Linked DNA regions of Homo sapiens: regions 2 and 3 are each reported to be linked to region 1. Evidence: microRNA targets listed by miRTarBase, many of them from high-throughput screens and not tested one by one. Region 1 holds a microRNA gene; each other region holds the end of a gene's coding sequence.

Evidence for each region. The annotated mature microRNA hsa-miR-3158-5p reads CCUGCAGAGAGGAAGCCCUUC and lies in region 1 at 5,405-5,425, shown strand. An mRNA with a match to its seed (bases 2 to 7 or 8) in the 3' UTR can be bound and repressed. Matches are read on the target gene's strand: a 7mer-m8 pairs with bases 2 to 8, a 7mer-A1 pairs with bases 2 to 7 and ends in A, and an 8mer does both.
Region 2: miRTarBase lists NLRC5 as a target of hsa-miR-3158-5p. The part of its 3' UTR that is shown has no 7-base or 8-base seed match.
Region 3: the mRNA of TMEM178B is a reported target of hsa-miR-3158-5p. Seed matches in the 3' UTR shown: 7mer-m8 at 2,838-2,844 and 7mer-m8 at 9,404-9,410.

The regions. Positions count from the first base shown.
Region 1 is chr10:101,596,491-101,606,889 of GRCh38, reverse strand. It overlaps MIR3158-2 (microRNA 3158-2), which reads left to right and starts at 5,393; the gene lies at 5,393-5,473. It overlaps DPCD (deleted in primary ciliary dyskinesia homolog (mouse)), which reads right to left. Exons shown (of 6, transcript NM_015448.3): 3 at 6,028-6,152; 4 at 5,554-5,687. MIR3158-1 (microRNA 3158-1) reads right to left here and starts at 5,473; the gene lies at 5,393-5,473. RefSeq lists a silencer at 3,845-4,004 and an enhancer at 9,324-9,892.
Region 2 is chr16:57,081,980-57,088,979 of GRCh38, reverse strand. It overlaps NLRC5 (NLR family CARD domain containing 5), which reads right to left. Exons shown (of 49, transcript NM_001384950.1): 49 at 5,460-6,563. The coding sequence ends at 6,452. Among named protein-coding and RNA genes, the nearest start is that of CPNE2, 7.1 kb to the left of the region's middle. RefSeq lists an enhancer at 4,318-4,447.
Region 3 is chr7:141,468,908-141,479,306 of GRCh38, forward strand. It overlaps TMEM178B (transmembrane protein 178B), which reads left to right. Exons shown (of 4, transcript NM_001195278.2): 4 at 1,629-10,399. The coding sequence ends at 1,879. Among named protein-coding and RNA genes, the nearest start is that of AGK-DT, 77 kb to the right of the region's middle.

The sequences.
Region 1 (10,399 bases):
TAGGCTCAAGGGAGTAGGGAGCATCTGCCTTTTCTCCTCCTGGGGAAGCCCACCCCCTTCTCACACCCATTCCCCCAGACATAGGGTTTTTCCATGATAGGTACTGTACTTGACTTTCTCACCAGCACCTGGACAAGAGAGAGACCCACTGTGCTTCTGGAAGGGTCATAACGTTCAGCCTCAGGCAGCTGTAGGTAGGCAGCAAACATTTATTGGGCATCAACTGTGTCCCAGACCTTGAGCTGTGAGCTGGGGATTTAAGGATGAAGAAGAGGGCGGGCCTGGTGACTCATGCCTGTAATCCCAGCACTTTGGGAGGCTGAGGTGGGAGGATCACTTGAGGCCAGGAGTTCAAGACCAGCCTGGGCAACATAGCGAGACCCTGTCTCTACAAAAAATTAAAAGAAAAGGATGAAGAAGAAACAAGGCCTCCAGATGCAGTGGCTCACTTCTGTAATCCCAGCATTTTGGGAGGCCGAGGTAGGCAGATCACTTGAGGCCAGGAGTTCAAGACCAGCCTGGCCAACATGGTGAAACCCTGTCTCTACTAAAAGCACAAAACTTAGCCAGGCGTGGTAGCAGCACCTGTAGTCCTAGCTACTTGGGAGGCTGAGGCAGGAGAGTCACTTGAACCCAGGGGGCGGAGGTTGCAGTGAGCCAAGATCGTGCCACTGCACTCCAGCCTGGGCAACAGAGCCAGACTCAATCTCAAAAAAAGGAACAAGGCCATATCCCTGCTGATCAGACCTTGTTTTGTTTCTGCTAAAAGATGAACCCTTACAGCAGGATAGTTCCCTGGCTTCCTGCAGATGCCCCGCTCTCCCCCATTCCCACCTCCCTTCAATGTTCTATTTCAGCCATACAATGAAAGATGACATTTTAAGAGCTTATTCTGTGCCAGGTTCTAAACACATTTAATTGTCAAAACAACTCTCTCAGGTTGGTTACTTCTATTATCCACTTTTAAACAAAAGGAAACTGAGGCCCAGAAAAGTTAGATATCTTGCCCAACTCACAAAGCTGGTAAACAGAGAAGCCCGTATTAAAGTGAGAATTCCCCAAATCTCCTGACACCTCCATGTCTCCACATTCTCACCACAAAGTAATAGCCCGCCATAGTCTAGATTATTTGCATTTGTCCAATGATGGGGCAGATATTGAGGTGGGAGGTGGGGATGTTCAACAATGAACAGGTTGTCTCCCCTGGGGTCCGAACACTCTGCGGGTCCCCTGGGTACTCTCTCCAACACATCAGTGGCCTTCCTTTCTGAATGTCAAAAGTCTTCAAAAGATGTATGTGGAAGTAAAGGCTTGTAGCAGAACTCCTGGCCCTGCCTTGTGACCCCGGACAGGTCACTTAATTTCTGGGCCTCAGTTTCCACATTCCTTCTTCGAATAAAAGAGCTGCACTAGATGAACTTGAAGTCAATGTCAAAGGGCCCAGAACAGGCCAACTCTGTACCTGTCTTCTCCCTGTTTGACAGACGACTCCTCCATTTTGACTATTTCAGTAATGATCTATTGCCTCCCACCACTCTCTACTGTATCCCCTCCCCAATCCAGCCTTTCAACCCAAAAGGGCACCAGAGGCCAGGCCCTCAGAGGGAGAGAGACTCTGGAGGCTGAAGGCAGGAGCAGGGCTGCTGTGGACAATCACTTGGGTCATGCCTCACATACCTCAGAGGGGGTGCCATGCACACCTGCACACCGCATGGCCAGAGGGGTCCAGAGAAGCCTCCAACCAGTCCGCCTTTAGAAAAGCAGCAAGCAAATCTTCTTAAACATCAAGGCTCTGGGCAAACTTGGCACCCCCACCCACAGTCGCCCCCTGCTAGACAGTCACAATCACACACACATACTAAAGGCTCTCGGCCCCACCAAAGAGAAGCCTGTTTAATCCAGAGTTTCTTAAATTTATTTAACCACAGAATCCTTTTTTCTAGTGAAGCCTATTAACACCTCCCACAGTGTTACTATCACCGATGTCAAATCAGCCAAGCTCTCCTCAGATTCCAATTTCCAAAGAACTGTTGAGGACCTGCTTCAGGCCAGCCGTTGTGCTGGCCTGTACATATATGATTTCATCAAATTCCCCAAAATCTGTGAAGTAGCTGTGAGTCTTCTCTGATAGATGAGGAAACCTTGCCTAAATTCTACAGCTAACAGTGGCAGAGGCCAGATTTAACCCAACAACTTCTCACTCCTGCACCCTGGCTCATTCCACCTACAGCGGCCAACTTCCAGGCTGAGGCTAGGAGCCCTCTTTCTGCACAAACGTTATCAGGAATAGATGGTCCAACACTGGGATCCTGGAAAAGCACTTTTTTCCTTCCCTGATTCATCCCTCACTAATATGTGAGGCCAAGGACATGATACACTGCAATCAATTCCTTCAAGTAAAGTCACCAACCCAGCTCTTCAGAGACAAGGCAAGTATGGGTAAAGAAACTCTGGCTTTGGTTAGTAACCACATTCCAGAATATTAGAACTGGGGCAGGTTATGGAACCTCCAGGTGAAGGAAGAGGTCAAATCAGAGAGAAATGCCATGATGTGCATTTCTGAAGTGCAGATGTCTGAGTATCAGGAGAGACAGTCACTAACTTTCAGCAAGCTGGTTCATCATGCTGACTTTATATATACATTTATATAATCATCTATAACACAAGAATAAAAGTATGGATCCTGTCCACCTCCTGACAGAATGATGATCAGAAAACAGATTTTAAATGTACTATATCCTTAAAAAGCTAAACACTGTGGAAGGGAGTAGCCATTGAGTTTTTGGCTTCTGGCCAGAGGCCACACTTCCCCACCTGCCAGAATGGCCACCCTGGTCTGGGTGTGGTGGCTCATGCTTGTAATCTCAGCACTTCAGGAGGCCAAGGCAGGAGGATCACTTGAGCCCAGGATTTTGAGAGCAGCTTGGGCAAAATGGAGAGACCCTCAACGCTATAAAAAATTGTTTAAACTTGGCCAGATTGGGTGGTATGCGCCTATAGTCCCAGCTTCTCAGGAGGATGAGGCGGGAGGATCCCTTGAGCCCAGGAGTTCAAAGCTACAGTGAGCTATGATTGCAAGAAGTGGACTCTAGCCTGGGCAATAGGGCAAGACTCCATCTCTTTTTTTTTTTTTGAGATGGAGTCTCACTCTGTCACCCAGGCTGGAGTGCAATGGCATGATCTTGGCTCACTGCAACCTCTACCTCCTGGGTTCAAGCGATTCTCCTTCCTCAGCCTCCCGAGTAGCTGGGACTACAGGCATGCACCACCACGCCTGGCTAATTTTTGTATTTTTAGAGAGACAGGGTTTCGCCATGTTGGCCAGGCTGGTCTCAAACTCCTGACCTCAGATGATCCACCTGCCTTGGCTTCCCAGAGTGCTGGGATTACAGGCGTGAGCCACCGCGCCCAGCCAAGACTCCATCTCTTAAAAAAAAAATAAATAAATAAAAATAAAAATAAAAAAGAATGTCTATGCAGGCTGTAACCCCTGATGAGAAATAAATCTCTCCCTTCCAAATTAATAATAATAATAAAGGAATACCCATTGAGTTCTATATAATTAATGGGAGTAAAGGTATAAAATACATTCTTCCAGGTAGAAGGTAAAAATGCCACTAGGTTCGGGAACGATCTGGCTAAGGGTTCAGCGGCCTCTAGGTTACCTCCCAACAGAGAGACCTGAGGAGGGCAGGGATGAGCCAGGCTGGGACACTGGACCAGAGGCTCAGTGTGGGTTCCAAAGTGGGCCCTGAAACACTCCTCTGTCCTCTATGGGAATCCAACCCTCAGCCCTGCCCCTCCAGGGGCATCACTCCCATCCCACCTGGCCTCACCCATCATTTCAAAAATGTCCAACAACCCCTGCTTGCCTTGAGAGCTAGCCTGGGCCTCCAGCCATGGAGCTCCTGGCCAACAGCGCCACCTATGGCTGGATGTGCGCAGGAGATGGGACCCAGAGGATATGCTGGCAGATGAATTTTTTGGTGAGCTAGCTAGCCTCTTTCCTCACTCCCTGGTAATCACATTTCTGTCTGATATCTGTATTCGACAGTGACCTCTGGGGGACAAAAAAGAGGCAGCAGCCAGCTTCACAAAGTGCTGGGCTGCAGATTCAAGTGCTATCAGAAGCACTTTTGTTCCCAGTTTGGACCCAAGGCCTCTTCCACCAAGGAATGCTTGCTGAAGCATGGAGTTTGTTCTCCTACAGGCAATTTCTCTGTTGTCTGAAATTGCTAAATTCCACTTTAGGCAGTGACTCCTGTTAATGATGAGAACAATAACGGGAATAAACTGCCTCTTATCTGAGGGCTTCAAAGTGCTTTATAAACACAAACCCTTATTATTATGACTTTATATTTATAGACAAGGCCCACTGCAGGGGCTGCTGGCTGCATGTACAGCAATAATCCTGAAATTAATTCATCCATCTCCACCCTTTCCCCTGTCCTCTTAACCCTGCCAAAGCAATGGGATATGGGGGTCACAAGAGGATGGCAGCACCCAGGGCTGCGATGGGGGAGTCTGGGAGCTACCCTGCTTCCCTGTGGGCCTCGTGAGCCTGAGGGAGATGGAAGGGGAGACTGGCACCACATCACCTGAGGAGATGCACAAGGAGCTGTGTCCCCATTACTGCATGTAAAGCAAGAGATGGGTGGGGGCATCCCCATGAGGCATGTTGAATGGCTTCACAGCTTGCAGACAGGTAACTTATAAAACCTCCCATCTCAATGCCCAAATCTATTTTGTGGGAGTTGTCCCTAGACTGTATTCTCTCTAGCCCAGGTCAAGATTGATTCATTTCAGGGTCATTCCCTTCAGGCCTCACACAGGGCATTGTTCTCCTGTGATCAGTCAGGGCTCCAGAAACCTAAATGAGATCAATGCATTTCCAAAATGGAAATGCACTGTGGCCACCTTCTGTCCTTTCAACCCCTGCAGTTTGCCTCCCCTCTAGGGGACCACAAAGGGAAGTTGAGTACCCCTTTTGAAGCATTATGCAAGAGACTTCCAAGCGGCCCAAGCATCTGCCCCACTGTCAGTCTGGGGAGGGATTAGGTTTACTGCTGCCCAGTCTGCTTTAAACTGCTGTCAAGTACTGCTTTAAAGGACTGTCACTCCCACTTCAGACAGGGGTGCCTTCCAAGCTATGGCTCCCTGCCAGCTCTGACAGTGATGTCACCAGGCCACCCTTACCAAGGCCTGGCTCCAGTCAGGAGACCAAGGTCATAATAACCTTTCAGCAGAACCACCTGAGACCACAAGTTAATGGTCCTGTGATTTCCCTCATCATCTCATTCATTCAACAAATATTTACTGAGCCCCTATCTATGCCAGGTACTATACTAGATACTCATTCAAGTTTCTCTTCCCCGATGGAGCTGATTACATTATTCAGGCCGGTCCTGCAGAGAGGAAGCCCTTCCAATACCTGTAAGCAGAAGGGCTTCCTCTCTGCAGGACCGGCCTGAATAATGATCCTAACGCCAGATCAAACCCCACCCTACACCCCGCTCATACACAAGCACACAGGGTGCCTTCCACGCTACTCACTTCTTGTTGGTTGTTCTGACAATGATGCAGCGCTCCTTCTGGTCCACAGAGACACTATAGACATCCTTAGGATAGGGGAGGTTTCGAATCCGCCACTGGAAACTCATCTTGGTGTCCTTGCGCATGAAGATAGGCTGCAGAAGGCAAATCCAACTCGAGGACTGTTCCTGGGGAAGGGAAGGCTCCACCCTCATCAGAGCGCTACCCCGGGGCACAACAAGACCCTCAGCTCTTCTCCACTGCTCCCCTCTGACGCTGCTATTGCTACAGCACTCCAGGCCCTGAGCCCCCGCCCTGGGACGATCAAGCCAAAATGTCTGTATTCATTCAAACAAACATTTATAGAGTGCTGTGTCCAGGTGGCACACTGGAGGCGAGGAGGTGAACAAGACATGGTCCCTGCCCTCAAGAGCCAGCAGCCCACAGCCCACCCCCACCTCAGTCCGTGCAAGACACCTGGACAGATGGACGTACATTGGCATTGCTTTCCTTGATGAGTTCAGGCCCCAGGTTCCCTGCTCCTAGGGGCGCTGGGTCTCCTACTTCAAGCTGCCACTGGCCCATGGCTCCCAGGGCACTTTTCACACGCCACTTTCTCACTGGGGAGAGAAGCAAGCATCGGGATGAGAAGCAAGCATCAGGATGAGAGTGAAGAGAGGGTCTCTGCTCTTTTCTGCTGAATCACCGGCACCACACTAGGTAACTAGCACAAGATGAAAGTGGGAGTGTTGGGCCTTTACTCTCAGCTTTGTTAATCTAAGGAGGGACCTCACAACTTCTGAAATTTCAGTAGAGCATTTCAACATTAGACAACCCTCAAAGCGCATCTCATGGGTGCTCAGGCAAAAGGAACTGGAATGAAGCTCTGAGAAGAGCCAAGTGGAGTCAAGAAACCCTCAGGTGTGGCTTCAAGCAAGGAGAAGATGTGAAGATTAGGAAAAGGGTTGTTTCTGGTAATGGAGAAAATTTGGATCCCAAAAAGGAGTTGAAGCACACTTTTTCCCTCAAAAACATGCAGAGGAAAAAATAATTAAGAGGGTGAAAGCTGTTCGGCAGGTCTGTATCATGATTCAGAAAGTCCAAATATAGAAATTCACTCTTTTCAGGTATACCTTGCTTAAAAAAAAAGAAAAAAGCAAAAACAAAAAAACGCTCCAAAGCTGCATTTAAACAAAATCGTAGGCACATGCCATATTTTAAATGCACGGTTTATAAAAGATCTAATGTGAATTTTTTGTAAAAGGGAATCCTTCTAGAATGCAAATAACCATCTCTATTTTACCTTGTTTCATAACCCAGATGCTTGCATAAGATTTTAAGGCACATATATTATGAAAATTATAAATCAAGAAACTAGTTGAATGGACTACCTGAAAACCCCTGCTGAGATTTTCATTTTCAGGAACCATGCGGTCCATCACTGCAGGGGGATCTTTTCTGAGCCATGACCTCCTATCCCCCAGTTCCTTTCCCTTCCTGCTGCATTTGGAATCCGGGGCTGCCCACTATGGTATCCTCCAGCCTGAGGAGCCCAGCTGGTGCTAAAGACCAGCAGCCTCTGTAGCTGTTTAAGGAGCTAAACAACTCAAAAAGTGCACAGTACTCAGTTACAGTTGTTTCTGTTTGTGTCTTTTTCCAGGTAGGAGTTGAGAGCTACAGTCAGGTTCTCAGCACTAGGCAGCCGGCGGTTTTACTTTAGACCTTTTGAGCAGCTGTGTCAAATCCAAACGCCCTCACCGGTATAAGTAAGGCACACAAGCTGAACACAAAAGTGTGCTGTAAAATTAGAATTTTCCCTTAAATATGTGCTTTTATAAGGTCTGCTGCATTCTGCAGTGTGATTTTATTACCTCTTAGGGCCAAAAATTCTCCCTAGAAACACATTTCCAAGTTTATAATGAAAATTAATAAGGAAGAGTAAAACTTGGAAATATGCTTTATAGGCAACTTTTTTCCCCCACAAATACTTCTCTCTTAAGTGAACGGACTGTGACCAGGAGTATATCCAAATCTATTCAGTGTTAATACCTCACTTCACTGGAAGCAGCCTTCTGGGGGCCTCTGACACAGTTGCAAACTCAGAAGTGACAAATGCCTCCGAGCAGCAGCTTATTGTGAAAAGATCCATGTACCCTACTCTATACTATAGGAAAGATCACTCTCAGATTCTCGCTCAGACTAGGTATAAAATGCTGTGTGTAGAATAAGGCAGGAAATTACTTTTTTTCTCAGGCATATTGACAATGGTATCGGGGACAACTCACACTGGACGGCAGTGTCAGAACCACATAAACACTTGGGACCATTTAGTGTAAGGGCAAACAAGCACCCTTAGACTCCAATGGTGCCACTTTATAATAGAACACAACCATCACAGATTTTAAAGGTGGAAGTTCCTTTAGAAAGCATCTACTCCAGGCCGGGCGTGGTGGCTCATGCCTGTAATCCCAGCACTTTGGGAGGCCAAGGCGGGCGGATCACCTGAGGGAGTTCGAGACCAGCCTGGCCAACATGGAGAAACCCCGTCTCTACTAAAAATAAAACATTAGCTGGGTGTGGTGGCACACGCCTGTAGTCCCAGCTACTGGGGAGGCTGAGGCAGGAGAATCGCTTGAACCTGGGAGGTGGAGGCTGTGGTGAGCTGAGATTGTGCCATTGCACTCCAGCCTGGGCAACAAGAGTGAAACTCCGTCTCAAAAAAAAAAAAAAAAAAAAAAAAAAAAAAGAAAGCATCTACCCAATGTCTGTATTTTTAAAATGAGAAATAGCATTTTTTCCCTGACTGCTCTCTTTCAACCCTTGCCACTACTCTCTAGGAAACAGACTATGAAGAATTACTGAGGCTCAAGGAGACAATCTTACAAATGCCACGGCTAAACTCCAGGTCTCCTAACTCCAAATCCAGAATTTGAATTATTAATAAAACTTTATTCTGAAAGTGTTCAATAAGCACATGTAATATTTTGAAAGGTTTCTGTTTTTTTTTAAGTAGCTCAATTTATTTTTTATATTTGGCCTTTAAAGGGTAAGCTTTGATTATCTGAAAAAGTAAATTATGAGGACTACCTCACGACCTAGGGCTGGATAAGTGAGGTGCCCCTGTAAGTCATGGGCCTTGCTAAAATGGGTGTCCTAATGCATAATAATGCACCAAGGTGGCCTGGAGGGACGACAACCACCCCAGGGTTTTCTGTGCACTTTTACTCCAAAAAATTTTGAGTTTTACACAGAAAACTTCCCAAGAAGTACTCAAAGAAGGAAGAAAGTCAGCTGCTGATTTCCTTACTTCTGACCTTAAAAACCACTCAGGGAACTTGACACCTCTGGCTGCTTCACCTTTATTTTTTGTTTAAACACCTTGAGAATTAAATTCTTTGTTAGAATGTAGAAGAAAGTCTCCTTTCCCATTCCCTCTAGAGATAAGACCCAATAAAAGATTTTGGGGAAGTCCTTCTTATTTTTCCTATGCACAAGTGCATGGGTGTGAACACACATGTACAAATGCACACTTTGTCTTGTCTTTCTTGCCCCCGTCTTTGTTTCTGAACTCAAGGACGGCTCCTGCGGCAACAGAAGACTGTTTCCATCTGCTGTCACTCTGATTTGATTATATGTTAAACCCAAACTGGTGTGAGGCAGCTTCCCGGGACGCTGTCATATCTTCCCAGCTGAGCCCCAGCCAGACCTTGGAAAAGAGACTTTCCACCCCGGTGAAGAGTCTGATGGGGAATATATAAAGGAGGTGGCGCCTGGGGGCTTTTTCCTAAATCAGCAGGAAGCAGGCTGATGTCCCAGACTGCTGAAAGGAGGCCCCATCTTTCAGGTGGGCTGGAAAGTAGAAGTCCTAAAGGCCTCTTTCCCCAAAGCTCCAAACCCTGGCCCACTTCCAATGTGGATAATTACATTCCCCTTCCCTAAATGTTCCCTGCAGCTTCAACTGGATGCAGGATTCTTCTTTTCTGCCTTAAAACACTGCAACATTGCTATGTGGCAATTAAACAGCTGCCATGTCCCATCCCAGAGGAGGCCGAAGGGAATCGAGTGGGTCATTTATAAAGCCAGTGAAGTGCTTGGGGATGAAAGTGCTCAATATCCTCCAAATGCAGCCTGGGGTGGTTAGGCTGGCGGTCAAATACCAAAGCAGATTAAGTCGGTAATCCGAATGTAATCGCTGGGGGATGGCCTGCCCTTCAGCCTCAGCCCCCTTGGACATGCTGTGTTCTTCTCAGGCTGGTTTGATGTTCCGATCATTGTTGTGGGGCCTTCAGTTTTTTCCTCTATGAATACATGCAGCAATCATTGTGGGGGGTGGGAATGAATAGCACTGAGAGGGTAGGAAAAAAACAGGACACTAACATGCTTATTAACACCGACGGGAGGAACTCTGTCCCAGACTGACGCACACCTATTGGCAATTCTTCCTCTGTAAATTACTTTGAATTTTTCTAACAGAAAACTGGTTTGGCTAATTATCAAATTTGTATACTTAGCTAGAAAAATGGAAACTATTCCTATTTATTGCCACAAAAACCATGTCCCTACTTTACTTCATAGAATGCACAAGCAAAAGCCAGCTCAACCCCTGGGATTATTTATACTTAAAAATTAATAATGGAGAGTATTTTGCCAGGGCAGCAGTGGTGGATAGGAAGAAGAGTAAGAAAAAGATCTGCTGTTCTAGAGCTGGGCCCAGTGGCTCAAGTGAGGTCCTCCTGTCTGCCCATCAGTCCACACTCAGGCCTTTCTGGGGAAAGAAAAACAGTAAGAAGAAAAGAAAGTTGGATTTAAGTGTTCTCAACTCCCAGCACTATGTTGTTGAGGACTAAAGCATGGGCTCTTAATTGGA
Region 2 (7,000 bases), not on the chromosome of region 1:
ATCCCCTCAAGGATCTCCTGGTTAGAGGCAGGTGTGGCTGACTCCATTGTCAAACCTCAGGCATGGAGTCATGGCCATGAGTTTGAATCCCAGCCGCTCAGCGGCTGCCTAGGTGAAATCACTCAATCCTCTGGCCCTTGCTCTCCTTCTCTGTAAAATAGGATAGACTTAGTATTTGCTTTATGGGATGGTTGTGAGAATCCAATGAGACAGAATTCAGTGAGACCGTAACGTGCCAGGCAAGTGTAGACAGCAGGGCTAGTGTATAATTGCTATTTTTTTGTTGTTGTTGAGACGGAGTCTCGCTCTGTCGCTCAGGCTGTAGTGCAGTGGCACGATCTCGGCTCACTGCAAGTTCTGCCTCCCGGGTTCACGCCATTCTCCTGCCTCAGCCTCCCGAGTAGCTGGGACTACAGGTGCCCGCCACCACACCCGGCTAATTTTTTGTATTTTTAGTAGAGACAGGGTTTCACCGTGTTGGCCAGGATGGTCTCGATCTCCTGACCTCATGATCCACCTGCCTCGGCCTCCCAAAGTGCTAGGATTACAGGCATGAGCCACCACACCCGGCCATATAATTGCTATTTTTTAAGTTCCAGGGTTGTGGTCACTCTGATGCAGGGACGGTCCCTTTCTAGGATCAGGATACCCAGACTTCTCCAGCCCTTCCAGACAACCTCAGACACCTCCCTCAGCTCTGACCCTGTGCTGAAGTATGTGTGGGTGTGTGTTGGGGAGTGGGAGGTGGAGGACTAAGGGTCCCATGAGGACCACTGATGCCTCTGGCCCCAGGCTCCTAACCAAGGGGTCCCCAGTTGGCCTTTCTTCCCTGGGGAAAGCTCCTCTACTGTTCTCTCCTTCCCAGGGCAAAGGTCTCTTTCTGGACAGCTAGGTTGGGGTGTGTGTGGGATGAGCCTCCAGGTGTGGCTTCCAAGGGCCAAGGGGAGGGTTCTTCACTGGGGTAATTGGGAGGCAGGACAAAGACCAGCAGTCCCTGGAACTTCCTGAGCCTTGCCCCGGGATGAGATGATCTTTTTTTTTTTTTTTTTTTTTTTTTGAGATGGAGTCTCGCTCTTTTTGCCCAGGCCAGAGTGCCGTGGTGCAATCTCAGCTCACTGCAAGCTCCACCTCCTGGGTTCGTGCCATTCTCCTGCCTCAGCCTCCCGAGTAGCTGGGACTACAGGCGCCCGCCACCACACCCAGTTAATTTTTTGTATTTTTAGTAGAGACGGGGTTTCACTGTGTTAGCCGAGATAGTCTCGATCTCCTGACCTCGTGATCCGCCCGCCTCAGCCTCCCAAAGTGCTGGGATTGCAGGCGTGAGCCACCACGCCTGGCCGAGAGATGATCTTTACCAAACCAGCCACTGAATGGTCTTTCCTGGAAGCTCTGGATGTGCCTAGAGTGCATCACAGGTCCTCAGGCCTAGCTTTGGCCATGAAGGGTAGGGTTGGGGGCAGAAGCAGAGCCCAAGAAGGGTGCACAGCCCTCCTGCCTTCCTGAGGGTCTCTCTCTCTCCAGGGAACACACAGACCCGCAGACCAGTTAAATCTCCAGTCCAGGACCACTCCAAAGTCACCCTTTCCTTTTGTTCCAGAGTTGGAGTCTGAGCCCCACTAAATACTCACTGTGTGACCTTAGGCAAGTCATGTTCTCTCTCTGTGTCTTGGTTTCCTCATCTGTAAAATAGAGGAGATTGTTGCTGTGATTGTTGGGCCTAGAGTACATCACAGCTGGCGATGCTCTACAGAAATAACCAGGCAGGGCAGGTGGCTGAGGATCCAGAACTCTCCCCAAGGGAGTGCAGAAATGAGCCATAAGATCATCTTTGCAGCTGAAGAACATAGGTCCTCGTGCCTAACCTCCTTTTGCTCATCCCCTTACTATACAGATGAGAAAACTGTGGGTGTCACAGGAGTGACCTGGGTTTGATTCCTGGTGCCACCAGTTACCAGCTTTGTACCTTTGGAAAAGTTAGGAAAAGTCTCTGGAGTTAGTGTCCCTCTCTGGGGAGGGAGGGTCATGGGATCCTCAGGACAAAATAAGGGGTGCAGGTGCAGGTGCAAAGGCTTGCCCAGCCTCTCCAAGAGACGGCATACTCCAGACCAGTGGGTCTCCACTGCGGCTGCACACTAGAATCACTCAGGGAGCTTTCTAAATACTCTTTTTTTCCCCCAAGACAGGGTCTTGCTCTGTCCTCCAGGCTGGAGTGCAGTGGCATGATCTTGGCTCACCGCAGCCTCCACCTTCTAGACTCAAGGGATCCTCCTACTTCAGCACCCCACCCCACCCCTACCCCCCGCCCCGAGTAGCTGGGACTACAGGTGCATGCTACCACGCCCGGCTAATTTTTGTGTTTTTTTGTAGAGACGAGGTTTCGCCATTTTGCCCAGGCTGGTCTCAAACTCCTGAGCTCAGGTGATCCTCCTGCCTCAGCCTCCCAAAGTGCTGGGATTATAAGCGTGAGCCACTGCACTCAGCCCAAATACTCCTTTTAAAAATAGTGATTTTTAAAAGCTTCCCAGGTGACTCTAATGTGCAGTCAGGGTTGCGATCCACTCATCTACAGTCTTGCTAAGCTAAGTATGGCCCAGCAACATGGCCATCACTTGGGGGCTTCTTAGAAATGCAGAATCCCAGGTGTCTGGGGCTGTCTGGAAGGGCTGGAGAAGTCTGGGTATCCTGCCCCAGACTTGCTGAACCAGAATCTGCATGGTGACAGGATCCTGACACCCTTACAATTTATGTAACTGCAGTTTTACAGCTTGGGAACCACTGGCTGGACAGATGTGTGTTTAGGGGAAGGATAGAGGAGGCAATTTGACAGCACCTGAGGCATGTGAAGGAGGCGAAGGGGGAGTCTGTGACTTCCATCAGAAAGATGGACATTCAGACACAATGGACTTTGGGGACTTGCGGGGGAAGAGTGGGAGAGGGGCGAGGGATAAAAGATTACAAATATGGTGCAGTGTATACTGCTCGGGCGCTGGGTGCACCAAAATCTCATGAATCACCACTAAAGAACTTACTCATGTAACCAAACACCACCTATATCCCAATAACTTATGGAAAAATAAAATAATAATAATAAATAAAACTAAAAAAGAAAGATGAACGTTCAATTTGTACAATTATAAGACTGAGGCCAAGAGACAAAGTAGTAAAAGGAGATTCTCCCCATCTTGCAGATAGACGCGGGTACTTACCAGCCTGATCGCATTCTCAGTGCGATGGCTCACATGCAGAGACGGGGAGCTTCCATTGGATCTTACTGCTTGCCACCCCATAACCTTGCTTTTCTTTGAATTTTATTTGTTTTCATGTATATATTTAAACTGAGCCTACTTTGGGGAGGAAGGGGGCAGGGAGGCTGTACTCCATCCGTGCTGGATAGAAAAACAGGCCGGGCATGGTGGCTTATGCCTGTAATCCCAGCACTTTGGGAGGCCAAGGCACGTGGATCACTTGAGGTCAGGAGTTTGAGACCAGCCTGGCCAACATAGTGAAACTCCGTCTCTACTAAAAATACAAAAATTAGCCAGGTGTGGTGGCGAACATCTGTAATCCCAGCTACTCAGGAGGCTGACGCAGGAGAATTGCTTGAACCCGGGAGGCAGAGGTTGCAGTGAGCCCAAATTGCAGCACTGCACTCCAGCCTGGGTGACAGAGCAAGACTCCGTCTCAAAAAAAAGAAAAAGAAAAAGAAAAATCAAAAAACGGTTAAGGCCTCCAAGCAGGCAGGTGGCAAGAGAGGAAGTTTCTTAATAAAATGAACAAGGCAATTTCACACCAACTTGATGTAGGCCCAGCCAGCTCTGCAGTGCCGCAATACTATGGTTTATTTCAGGGAAGCTGCTGAAAGTTTCTTGGAGTGTAGAATTTGGGCAGATATGAAGGGGGGAAAAGGCGAAGAGAGAAGTAAAATGGCTAAGCAGCAAATGAAAATAGTGTCCTTGAGCTCCGGGGTCCCCTGTCCCCCATGGCCAGGTGCCTCTGCTGGTATCCTCTGCTCCTTCCTCGGCCTTGGCTCCCCTGCCAAGCTATTTCCAGGCTTTGAGGGATTCATCCTTCATTCTTGGGCAAGGAGAGGAGGCAATGCAACCCCTCTAGTGTGAAGGTGATCTTGGGCACACTGAAGGCCAAGGTCAACTCGGCATCATGTCCCAGGAAAGGGAGACAGAATTTCGGACCCAGGGTTGCCTGGTAAACTTCTTGGATCCTCTTCCTGCCTACTTTTTCCCCCATGAGCAGGCTGACGGGCCCATTTGGTGCTAGGTGTGCCCTGACCCTGGCCCGGTAAGGGTGGCCCTGTGTGAAGTATGGGTGCTTGGCACTTGGCTGGAGGACTTTCTCCTCATGCTTGGCAGGGGGCCAGGAACAACCTGGAGGGCTGCAAAGGTCAAGGCCAAGCCACCCAGGTGATGTCACTGGTAGGCTGGGACATCCCAAGCTACTAGGCCGGGTGGGAACAGGCCCCAGCATCGCCTCCTAACTTCCTTCTGGGTCCCACAGTGGAGGAAGTTATCTCATGAATCGCCAGTGGGCTAGCCTGCCCTCCAGTGGTGCTCAGCTGTAACTGCACCACCCTCCCGACTTGGTTTTTCACAATGGGGTGGGAGGCTCCCCCTAAGATCAACTTGTTTTAACTACACGAGGGAGACAGGATGCTGATCTGTCATTTTGGGCATCTCTTCACGTCATATGATATTCGGCTATAAAAAGAGAGGAGAGCTAGGATAACTCGTTTTTGTTTTTTGTTTTTTTTGCCGGTAACTTTGCTCGTCTTGCTTTCCTGACCTCTCCAACAGTCTTAATGTGTGTCTGTGTGTTGTGGGGGTGGCTGCTAACCCACATACCTCAAAGACAGGTAGCAAAGGGTTAAGTCACATTCTATTCCATGCCTGTCTGACTTCCAAAGCCATGTTCCTCTGGTACAACATACCCATGCAAACTCTCTAGGCCAGGGTCAAAGAGCAGCAAAAAGTGGGGTCAGGTGGGGTGTCAAGACAATGGGGAGTGGTGGGGACTGCAGCAAGCTGAGGCATGTGTGCACATCTAAAAGGCACAGTCATGTGACTCTTCAGTGGGAGTGCTGGATTAGCACTTAAAAGCAAGCAGAATCTGAATTTTTATGTAAAATTCCCAATTTTGAATACTGACAATGAATTCAGAAAGTAGTTTCAATGTTATGCAAGTCAAACAAAAAATGTTTCTAACATGCTGAGCTTCTATAACACCCTCACGTTGCAGGCGAGGTCTGGAGAGAGGAGGTAACTTGCCCATGGCCACGTGACTAGAGACAAGTCCTGAGCTGGGAACCCATGTCTCCTGACTCCCAGGCCAGTGCTCCACTCAGCACACCTCTCTGTTGTTTGCGCTGCTGTCCAGTCCTTACGGCAGGGGGTGAACCACCTCTGACTTCAGTGGGGTAAGAGGAAACATTGGATTCACGCTAGACGTGGAATACCATTGTGTTTATTGATCAAGCCTGGCTTCGAGTGTGACAGAGCCATTCTTGGTTCTCCTTGGAAGTAACAAGAACACTGGGTAACATGTGAAGTGCATGGAGACTCACCTGAATCCCACCAAAGTAGTAGCTGGACCCAGTAGCCTAGCTTATTGTCTTGGCAGTGCCCCCTACCCAGTACCATTAGACCTGGCTTTGTCCCTTACATAGGACAGACTGGGCTTCTCCACTCCCGCCAGGCTGGCCCTACCTCCACCTGTCCTTGGAAGCTAGTATGTAAGTAAGGGAGGAGTCATCAAGTTTATAGATGGGTAGGCTGAGGATTGAGGCAGGAGGGGACTTAATGGCTGAGTCCCTGGCTTGTTCCAGAGCCCTGGCCCTTGAGCCCCTGGACTGGTCAGTGCATGGACACTCTCCCCTCCCAGCTCGGGCGGAAGACTTTTCCTGACTTAGCTGCTCCATACACACAATCTATAAATATGTATTTGCTTTAAAAATTAATAAATTAGATCTTGGGCCAGCCTGAGGTCATCTGGCCAGCCATGAGTCCTGTGACATGGACATTTGTCATGTGTCATATATAGACCAACAATCATGTATCCTGCTACTTGGGATGCCAGCACCCATGCCACAGAACACGTGCCACACTGACTTTCATGTAACGCCACATGTCAAGGGGTCACACTGCCACATATAACCGTACGTGTCATGCATTGTCATGACACCCTCATTGTGTGTCGCATGTCCCCAATTGATCACACATATCCCACGTAATGCAGGGTACTCCTTTGTCCAGACCCAGCTCCTGGTTCCCAAAAAAGTTCTCCCTGAGGACTGCAGCAGGACACACGTATCCTTCCTCCTGGGTGGAGTGCAGAGCGCCCTGCCGAGGCTCTTCTTTCCTGAGTCAATTATCCCAGTGGGCGAAAGGTGGATCATTTGGGTGCATCACTTGGCTGGATTCCAAAGGTCTTGAGGGGGCCATCAAGTACCCCAAGGGGCCTGGGGCTGGTTGTCAAAGAAGGCAAAGTCCAGCCTGGGCTCCTGGCTCTTCAGGTGCTGGGCCATGTCGCAGGGAATGGGGTTATTCCAGAGGCTGTGGGGCACAGATATAGGCACTCATTCATCCTCCCATCTTTGCCATCTGTCGTATCTGCAGATTGGGAGGCTGAGGCCCAAAAAGGTAGAGCTGTGCCTAGAGTTACCTGGCAGAGGCAGGTGTTAGACCAGCATAGCTGACCTAGGGAGAGGGTGTACCCCACACCTGCCTCCTGAGTCCTCCAACTCAACCTTCCTCCCTGGGAGATAGTGATGCCAGCTAAGGCCACACTCATATGACACATTTGTGCAAATAAGGAAAAGACCCTCTTTCTTCAAGATGTTTTACTTCCATCTGTCTGAAATTGTCATAATATATGATTTTGGTAGAACAAGGTACTTTACTCTCATCTGCTAGAAATCTAGCAGGTTGACAATGTGAATGGTGCCCCTTAGGTTTAATGCCCTTGTGCAGTGCACAACCTATACAACTGT
Region 3 (10,399 bases), not on the chromosome of region 1:
GGTGTGACATTTACATAGGGCACGAAGAAGCTGGCCACCCCATCCTAATCTTTTCATTATGCAAACGGATTTTCTACCTGGCGGGCACCATCTTGTTTCCTCCTTACTGTTCATGTGGTTGACAAAGAAAAGGGAAGATGCAGCCACCATGTTGAACATGCCTAGCCCCCAGGCAGCCTCTTCCTATTGGCACAGCTGCCAGTATGCACCCATGCAAGCTTCCAGCTTGCTTATCTATGTCTGCAGCTCAATTTTACAGGCTGCTCATTTGCTCAAAGAAATGATTTGGGGGTTGCTTTTTATTAAAAGGAAAACCTTACCGAGGACTTCTTTACCCTCACTCTCTGCCTAAATAATTCATTTTTAACCAGTATATCATTAGCACAGTTCCTAGCACATAGCACTTAATACTTATTTTAGGGTCAACTGTGGCCATTTAAATTATCACGAGCTGGTGAGCCTCATTCTTCCACTCTATATTTTCTTCCTTGTCTTCCAGGAAGCTTCTGGAAAAAATTAGGCTAGATCTTAAAGAAACAAGTCTCAATCTTAAAGAAACTTGGCTGTTAGAAAGCAAGAGTTTTAATAATAAATATAAAATTGAATGCACCTCCTTTTGTTCCTTCCCTATAAAAGTGCTTTTCCTTTTTCTTCCTTCCATTGACCCAGCCCAGCCTTCCCAAACTATACATCCTTCTTCTGCTCATTGCTCTCATATCAGTGGTTACATAAAGAACAGAAAACACGGCAAATGCAGAGAAAAGTTATTGAATTCATTTTAGGCACACCAAAAACTTGTTGTATTAGTTTAAAATGGGTTTATAATTCTAAACCATTTTATATCATTCTACCTCTTATAGCAGTTTTCTTATTAGAGACTGATATAAGTAATGTTTTTAAGAGGACGTCCCATCATCAATAAGTTTGTGAAATTCTGCATAAAGTAGGGTAGATGAGTTACCTTAATATTAACGTGGATGATGCGTGTTCATGGGTGAGAAGTCATGAGTAGGATTCCCCGTCTTTTGACTCTGCCTCCCACTTTGTAAAGGATCTCATAGCGTTAGCACTCCAGAGAGAACACTTTGGGAAATGTCTTATAGGAAAAAGGAAAATATTTCCAGGTTTTGGAAGAATTGTTGGTGAACAGATTAAAGGAAAACCTAATACTGTATGAGTAAGTTGTTATGTATAAGAAAGAGAAAAGATTGTTTTTCTCTTTAAAGAAGTAGCAAACAGTAGGTGTTTTCCATGTCTCCAAAGAAATACAATGAATTTAAAATGCTTTAGGAAAATGAACTGAATGCTCTTCTGCTCACTCTACCCCACACAAAATGCTCATGAGATATCTATTTAGCATCTTCCCAAAGGAGAGACTTCCCGAGTGTGTCCAAGACTGGGCCATTATTGGAGAGTGATGAAGTGATGATCCTTTAATACTATTCTCTGCTCCATGAATATTTCCAGATACTGACCTTGGTGATAACCTGCTCTTACCTAGACTTCCCATTTTTCCTACTCAAGAAAATTGAAAATGTAATAATATTAACTTTTCTCTTTCTCTCTCCCGCTCCTCTCCCCTTTCCTTCTCCATTTCCCCATCCTGTGTCTTTTCCCTTGTCCTCCAGGAACCTTCTGCATCATTTCACTGTGCACCTGTGTGGCCGGGATCAACTTTGAGCTGTCACGCTACCCACGCTACCTGTACGGACTCCCTGATGACATCAGCCATGGCTATGGCTGGTCCATGTTCTGTGCATGGGGGGGCCTGGGCCTCACACTCATCTCGGGATTCTTCTGTACCTTAGCCCCTTCTGTTCAACCTGTCCCGAGGACCAACTACCCTAAATCCAGACCCGAGAATGGGACAGTGTGCTAAAAAACAAACCCATACATACATATATATATATAAATATATATATATAATATACATATATAAAACAAAACAAAACTAAATCAAGACGATGCCAGTGCCAAGGTAGAGTTGAGTTGGCTCAGGCACCTGCATCTCGCCGGACTTTGTGTTGCCTCATCTCTGAGATGGGGAAAGTTTTTCCATCCTGTGGCTCTTCCATCAGTTCTTGACTTTTGGCTTCATGGTCTCTTGAAGACAGAGCAAACACCACCACTTGCGACCGCGTCTTGATCCCCATCACTGGCGAGGATGGGGTGGTGAAGGGACAGTGGAAGGGGTCTGAGGCAGCACAGATGTAGAGAAGGAAGTGCCACCCACTGGGTCAACGGGAGAGGACGCCACCCCTAACCAGTCATATCACAGGGTAACAAAGCCCTCAGTTCCTAGAATGTAACCAAATTATTGAGGCCATTTTCAGAATCACTTCTTCTCCTGCTCTTCCTGTTCGGACTTCCTTCCCAGCCCACCAGCAACACACAAGGAGTGGAAGAGAAAACAAACTGAGAAGGACGTTTTCTCTTTGCTGCCAAACTTTTGGACCATGTTTCATAGGTGGGAAGGGAAGAGAACATGCTGAGAGGCAAGATCTGCATCAATGAAAGGACGCTTCGGTGGATGCTCAGACAACCCAGTCTTACCTTCCAGCTGCCTTACACCCAGTGAAACAAGAGGCCACCCTGTCCCCAGCCGCACCTGCACTCCCTGGGCAGACTGGAGCCTTGGAGTCATGCTGTGATGTGTGTGTGTGGGTGTGCGTGCATGTGTACTTTGGGCGGTTTCCTTTTTTTCTTTTCTACCTTTTAAATGGAAATACTGCATTATGACTGTTGTCTCTCTTATCACTGTAGTGGTTTCATGGCCCCAGATAGAGGCCCAGAGACCTAGAAATTGTCATGAGGGACAGGCCTATAAGGGTGCCAATTCTGCAGCTACAGATCCCTGGAGTGGTGTGTGTGTGCGTGTGTGTGTGTGTGTGTGTGTGTGTGTGTGTGTGTGGTGGATGTTTCTTGAGCGTGGGGTTTTATTGTTTGTGTTGTGTTTTTTTAAATTGTTTCTGGTATAGCTGAAATTTCCAGAGGGCAGAACCAAGAACAAAGCCACTGGGCCAGAGGACCCCCGTGGTTCTCCACATTACAGCTCTGGGACTCTGCACGATTTAGTCCTCTAATTTTGGAAGTTCAAGACACAGCTGGGCACATAAGCCATGAGAGAAGAGGGGGAACACACAGTTCAGGAGAGAGAAGAAATGTTGCTCTGGTTGCTGTTGTACAAGAACATAAACCAACAAGACCTTCACTCCCCATTATAGAAGCTGTCCTTTGTCACTGGACATCTCCCCTTTCCCTAGGGGTGACCTCTGTACAAACGAAAGGAAGTGGGTCACATGCAGAGAGAGCACCTCCATTTCCCATGGGCTCAAGTTTGTATGATATTGTGTAAATTAATGCAGAACTCTTGACTCTTTCCATCCTCTTCCTTTCCCTCTTGATATTCAAGGCCATGAATCCCAAAATAACAGTCTTAGTGGCTAGCACCCAAACAGAGGTGGAATAAATCCACCCCAGTGTCTCGGGCTCATTTGAGCAAATTAGCACTGCAGGTGCTGGCAAGCAAAGTCAGCCAGAGAGTTGTGAACGCTGTAGGGGTGGGAGTCTGCTGGAGTGGGCTGGAGCCGCTCACAGTCATCTCAGTGAGCCTGCTGGTGCCCAGCAGCCCTGGGGAGGCCAGGTGAGAATCCCTGAGCTGGTGTAGCCATGGTCAACTGTGTAGCAGAGAATCCCCTTGTTTCATAAACAAATATGCTTTGGGAGCTTTGCCAGGCACTCAGCAGCCTTTCTTCCACTGCTGTGTAATCTGTTTCATTTACACGTCTTCCAACCCATCTTCCTACCACTCTCCTCCTTTTCTCACCTACTAACCACTTACCTTCTCTCTCTTCTATCTTCCACCCTCATCTGCTCCTTTGAACTGCGTGTATGTAATTCATATCTGGATATGATATGACATCTGATGTGCATGAATGGGGTTGAATGTGGATCTCTCTGTATGTGTATCTCTCTGGTGCATTTTGTGTACGTTTGTGTCAGTACACACCTGCACACAGGTGTGGGTGCCCTACTCAAGACTTCCTTACCGGGGACTCTGGTCAGCTTCTGCAAAAGGTCTCATGTGTGAGTTCCCTGTGTGTGGGTGTGCTGGGCGATAGGGTAAGGTGTGCAACGGGAAAAGTTGTTAGCTTCCAGTTGGGGTTCTAAGGATTATTTTTAAAACAAAGGATTTATTCTATGAGAAGGGAAATAATTTTCAGGAAAACCCAGTTTTTCAATTGGGCATTTTATTTCTAATTTTCTTTGAAAAGTTAGATTTCTCCCTTAAGGGGAAGGGCATACTTGGGCTTAAGGAAAAGTGAAGAAAAGTATCTCAGATTGAGAGGCCTTTTGTCTTCCTTCCAAGCGTCCTGAAGGGGCTCTGCCGAGGAAGGGACAGACAGGTTCACAAGCATCCATTTGGGGGAGAGGGCTTGTCTATGACCACACTGAAATTCCAGCTTTTTTCCAGTTGCAGGAGAGAGGGGAAAAATTCTAAATGGGGAAATTTGCTATGAACCATTTAAACTTTTTGTAAGTAATCATGTTTGAGGATGCTGGCTCACAGACCTATCATTATTTATATCCTCTTTTTAAAAAAAAATCCCATACTTTCAATGAATAGATTATCTGCTCTATCCAATTATTGTCTTTGTGACAGACATTTAGCAAAGCTTACTGCATCCCTTTGAAACCTTGAGAGTTCCTGAAATGTTAGAAAGCTCCCAGGAAAGACGTAAACAACCTGGGCTCAACTCACCAGCCCAGAGCAGGGGCTTTGAGTGACTTCTTTGATAGCAGGACCAGATAAATACGAACACACTTTGGGATCTGATCCTGCTGGGAAGCAAAAGACGCCCAGCCACATGACCAGGATAGAGGCCCCTTTCAGACGGCAAGTCCTGGCCAATGGGAGGACTTCTCAGGTGACCTTGATCCCTCTAGCATAAGGGCTTGACCACAGATTAAAACATGTGACTCCAACCAGTTACGGAAGCTTTCTGGCTGTGAGGTAGCTGAGGGAGATGAGGAGGAGGAAGAGAGGAGCCTTGACTTGTGAGGCTCTGTAGGTCAGACTCTGCTAACTCCAAATCAAAGTGGAACCCAACCTTATGAGGGCATTTAGGGTCAATGACCTCACTAAAGTCACCAGCCGCAACCCCAGGTCAAGTTCAAACTTCTTACTGGCATATGAACATGTATGTGCTTTGAGCTCCATGCAAGTCAACCTTGAGCCTGGGGCCCATTGCAACTTTTATTTCCTTCCCTACTCTACTACCTTGAGATTCAGGAAAGTGAGGTATTCTACCTAGAGAGAGGTCCCATATCTTTTTCTCCTTATTTTGGGAGTTACGGTTTCTTCTTCTGTTTCCGTTTCCTCTCTCTCTACTCACTCCTACTTTCTCCTGCATCAACTTTGGTCAATTAACATAGACAAGTGATTCATCTGTAGAGAGGCTCCTAGACTCCAAGCAGCCCCCTTCCTTGTTCATTGTGGCTGTAGGTTTTATAAGGAGGTCTGTGGCTCCCTGGCATCAAAATATGAAAAATAAAATCTGTGCCTGTTCCAGCTTCAATCCTCCTCCAAGCCTTAGCTTTTCAACAACCCTACCCTTTCAACTTCAGGGATCATGGAGTCACAGAGACTGGACAACTCCTCCAAATCTAGACAAAGACTTTCTTAAGCGCCCTGAGCCCAGGTGCATATCTTCCCATCAGGGATGAGTGGTCCCACCTAGCAATGCTTGCCTCTCCTGTGACAAGAGGGTAGGATATCCTAGGACTCTGAGACTGGGCCCTATATCTCAATATTCATCCACACTCATGATAAGATGCCGGAAATGAATGCACTGTGTGTAGCTGTCTTGATTTAGTGGGAGGATGTGCTGCTTAGGTCTCCAAAGATGCCCACCTGGGTCAAATTCAGAATAATGAACTCAGGTACATCACCCAGAGGCATTTAGAATGGACTCTCTCTTCACCTGGATTATGTGCTGAGTGTTAAGTGATTTTTCAAATATCTGGGGGAAGGAGTGGGAAGAGATACACTCTGGTCATCCTTTGGTGTGGTTTGTGGGGGATACTTGGTTGATTCTTGTAGTTAAAGTGAAGTTGCTTTTCTGAAAATGTTCCCTGTCTTCAGGGGACTTACCCATCCCAGGGGACACATCCATCCCAGGGGACACAGCCAGCCCTTTCCAGGGAAATACGATGTTTCTGAGTGAGAGGTGATTTCAGTGCAGATAGGAAGAGCTGGTGCACACCAGCAGGGTTGCCTTCCATGCCATCTTCCAGCTGGTGTGGGATAGACTAAGGGGGCAGATTTTTAAGAACCCCACCAGAGTTGACATACACACGTGATTCTCGTGTCTGTCTCTCAAAGCTCTCAATGTCTGGGGCTGTGTTTGCCCTCTTTTCATTGATGCTGCCATGATGCAAAATGTTTCTTAAACATTATTCCTGGTTCTTAGAATATGTGATTACTGAGTATTGGATTTCTTTCCTGAATAATAACTGCTCATTGTAGAAAATAAGAAAAATAAAATACAAAAAAGACTACAAGATTTTTCATAATCCAGTCACTCTGAGGCATCTACCGCGGGCCCAATCCAAATGGTCATGACCTCAAAACTTCCCCAATGAGTGCTTGTCTCTGGGTTGGCAGCTGGGGCCATGTGAGCAGTGTACACCACAGAACCGCACTGGTCTGCGTTGAGTTGACCCTGTGTTCCTGGCAGCAAGAGTGCAGGGCCCTGAGCCCCCAGAGATAGCAAAGAGGCCTAAAAGTTTAATGCCAGACCTTAGGGGCAGGATGGAGCAGGGCTAAAAGATGTCTCTTTGGGCCTGTCTGCCTGCTTTCCTTCCTTCCTTTTCTTTCCTTTTTTTTTTTGGTCAGTTGCCATCTCAATCTAATCATAGATGTAAGAATGCGGAAGCCAGAGTAACTCACTCATTAAGCTACACTTGTGTAACAGTTACTGTAAATTTCACTACAGCTCTGCACTGAAATGATTTGTGACTCTGGGCACTGTGTCTTCTCCATACTTGAACTTCCTCATCTACAAAATGAGGATAAGTGATAACACCTTACCTCATGGTATATTAAGGGTGACAAAGAAATTGCAAAGTGATTTGCAAACATGAAGTGTCATATGAGTTATGTATGTTCTAATTATCCCTCAGAAGACCCCCCGCTGGAATGGAATTCTCACATCAAGTGTCTGTGCCTCGCTGCTGAAGGATAACCCAGAGTGCAAGGTCATCTTTGTTGCTGAACAGGGCTGGACCTGTCGCACTTAAGCACACTTAAAGGATTCTATTCTTCATTCAGGTCCCCCAGAGAAATTGGCTCCTTATTTTTCTTTACCTATTCCTAGACTTCCTTTTGTCTAGAGCCAGTTTTGCAAAGGGCACTTTTATCCATCTCAGTTATTCCCAGAGGTGACAGAATGAGTAAACCATATGGGGCAAATAGCATATATGAGCTAAACCAGTTAACTGTTAACCAAGGCACATGGTCAATGCCTTAGTATTTTTTTTTTTAATTCTCCTAACGTTATTTCTAGCTGTACATTCCCAAAAGGAATGGGTGGAAGCAAATCAGATTCTGAAAGGTTTCAATGATCTTTCAAGTTTAGGATGAGACCAAGTCTCAAGGAGCTGGGATCTTCTTTCTCTTGTCAGTTGCTGAAGCCAGTAGCTTCGTCAAAAACATATGAATTCATATAAGGAAGCCCTTTAGATGGTACATTCACTAAGACGTGTCTGGGTGTGATCCTGTTTGGGAAAAACAGAATCCTAGGTTCTAAACAAGAAAAGAACGCCCTTCCCAAAGGGTCCGCACACTTTCTGCTTTGCAGCGGATCAAGTGTCCTTGTGAGGGTGAGACTTCCTTCAAGGGAAGGGAAGCCATTGCTCTCTCTGTAGATAGAGCCCAGCTGGTAACGGGGGAGCCACCCAACTGCAGGGGGGTGTATGTTCAGGTGTGAAAAACAGAAAACTGGGTCTGAACATGAAGAGTTGCACAGCAGTAGTTCGAAGAAGCTGGCATCTCTTTGGCAAACACCAACCTCAGCAAATGCAACTCCTACACTTCATTCCCAAGGACCAGGTGTTGCTCCTTAAGGAACTCTGTATCCCTCTCTCCTCTCCAGAACCCCATTCCTCCCACTGGCTGAGCTTTTCCTTTCCTTTCCGGGTCACCCATAGACCCTCTCCGTCTGTACCAGTGCGTCTGTGTTGTGAGCGTGACGAAGCCTTTCCTGTGAAGAGCTTTCATGAACTCATTCTCATACTCCTTCCCCATTTCCACCCATGGTGTGACTGTTTTGCTATTCAAGACTATCTGTAAAAATGTACAAATAAAAGTGAAAACTGAAAATAAAGGGGAGGGAGATTGAGATTAAACAAATGCAATGATGTAGCCCTTAGTTTTCTGAGGACTTCTGTGGACGGCCCTAAAATCCTGAGTTAGGGTGGGATATGAAGGGAGGGATACCATTGACACAGGAGGTTTTTTTCTGGTTGTTTCTCTCACAGTCATCAGTGTCTGCTTAGAACTCTCTGTTCTAAAGGTTTTTCCCTGTAAAGTAGAATGCACTTCCCCCAAAATAAAAGTAAATCAGCAATGTTTGAAGGGTCATGGCAAGGGTCATGACAAAGACCTGACTCTGGGGTGGCATGAGTGGCCCTGTCACCGGCTCACTCAGGGCCTTGGGGGAGTCTCATTACCTCACCTTGTCTCCACGTCTTCTCAGCCAAATGGGGATCAGGGGCTTCCAGGGCTCTGGGGGTGCGCAGTCCCCTTGTGTATTTTGCTGCTATTTCTAGAGAGACTTTGAGCCCTTGCTAGTGCGTGCTTACTGCATGGAGGTAAATTAGGAGATGTTTTCTCTCTGCTACTCCTGGCCTCTGCTTTCGCCCCTCAGAAAGTGACCTTGAGCTAGCAGCCAGTTTGCACTCAGAGTCCAGAGCCTTCTATCTACCGTTTCATTCTCAGATTCCTTTTCCCACCCACTTTGACGATCTCATTTTACTATCAGTCTCTACTGACTGAGCTTTGCTGCACTGGGCTGGGGTAGGAGAAAGAGCATCCAAGGAGATGATGTGTGAATTGCTTTGTAATTTATGACTCACCATATAAATGTGGCTTGCAGTGTCAGAAGCAGGGAGTCTGGCCAAGGGTTGCTACCAAATAAGACTGAAGATGGTGGAGGCAGTGGTGGCGTGGAGGCAGTAGGCAGAAGATGTGGGTTGGGAGCAGAGGTAAGATGAACGGAGCTTTGGGAAGGACAGATGGCAGAAGCACCAGAAAATCCTCAGCAAGGCAGCAGAGAAGGATCCTCAAAGCAGTAACCCTGAAGTAATAGGAAGTAGGAAAGAGGAGCAGGGATTAGGTAAATCTGCAGCATAAACAGCTGTCTCCCTGCAGGACTGAGAAGACCAGCTGCCCCAGAGAGGGGAGGCACGTCGAGCTTGGCCAGTGACCCAACCCATGATTAGAGGCACCTTCAATCCCAACTTTCCTCTCCTCTGCTGGGTCACAGTGATGGAACCAGCTTCAGGAAGGTAGTATAGACCAGCGTCATCCAATGGAACCATGATCCAAGCCACATATGCAATTTAAAATATTCTAGTAGCCACATTTTTTAAAGTCCAAAGAAACAGCTAAAATCAGTGAAATTAATTTTTAGACTACATTTTAACCTAACATGTCAAAAATAGTATCACTTCAGCATGGAATCAATATAAAAATTACTGGGATATTTTACATTCTTTTTTCCAAATGAAGTCTTCAAAATCCAATGTGATTTTCCTCTTAGAAAACATCTCAGTCTGGCCCAGCCCTATTTCCAGTGTTCAATAGCCACACCTGACTACTGGTTGCTGTATAGGACAGCACGGACTTAGGTTCTTCATTAGGAGACTGATGGGGGGGGTCCTTCCTGGTGGGTCACTCACTGCCATAGCTCTTGTCATAGCTGATGAAGGCAGGAGTGAGTCTTATTATGTTGGCCTAGAGTAGAAAGCACAGAGCTATGTCGAGGCTGCTGTCTCAGCCTCTGGAAGTTCTGCTTCACCTGCTTAGTAAGAGGAGATGACCACTCCTGTGGACTGCATGTCCCATCTGCCCCCAGAGGGTGTCGGCGCTGCCCCAGTCATGTCCCTTATGACCTGTCCAAGTCCTAGAGGCCAAAGCAGGTCATATTCTTCAGCTGCAGGAATGTCAGCTACTGCCTCCCACCCCTTAACCTGATCCCCTTATCATATAGTGGGGAAGGGGCAGGCAGGCCTTCTCTCTGTCAAGAACAAAGATCTCTACAACATTTCGTCACCTGGGCCAGTCACCTGCTAATATCATCTCACCAATATTTGGAGCTGTTTTCTGAATCCCTTA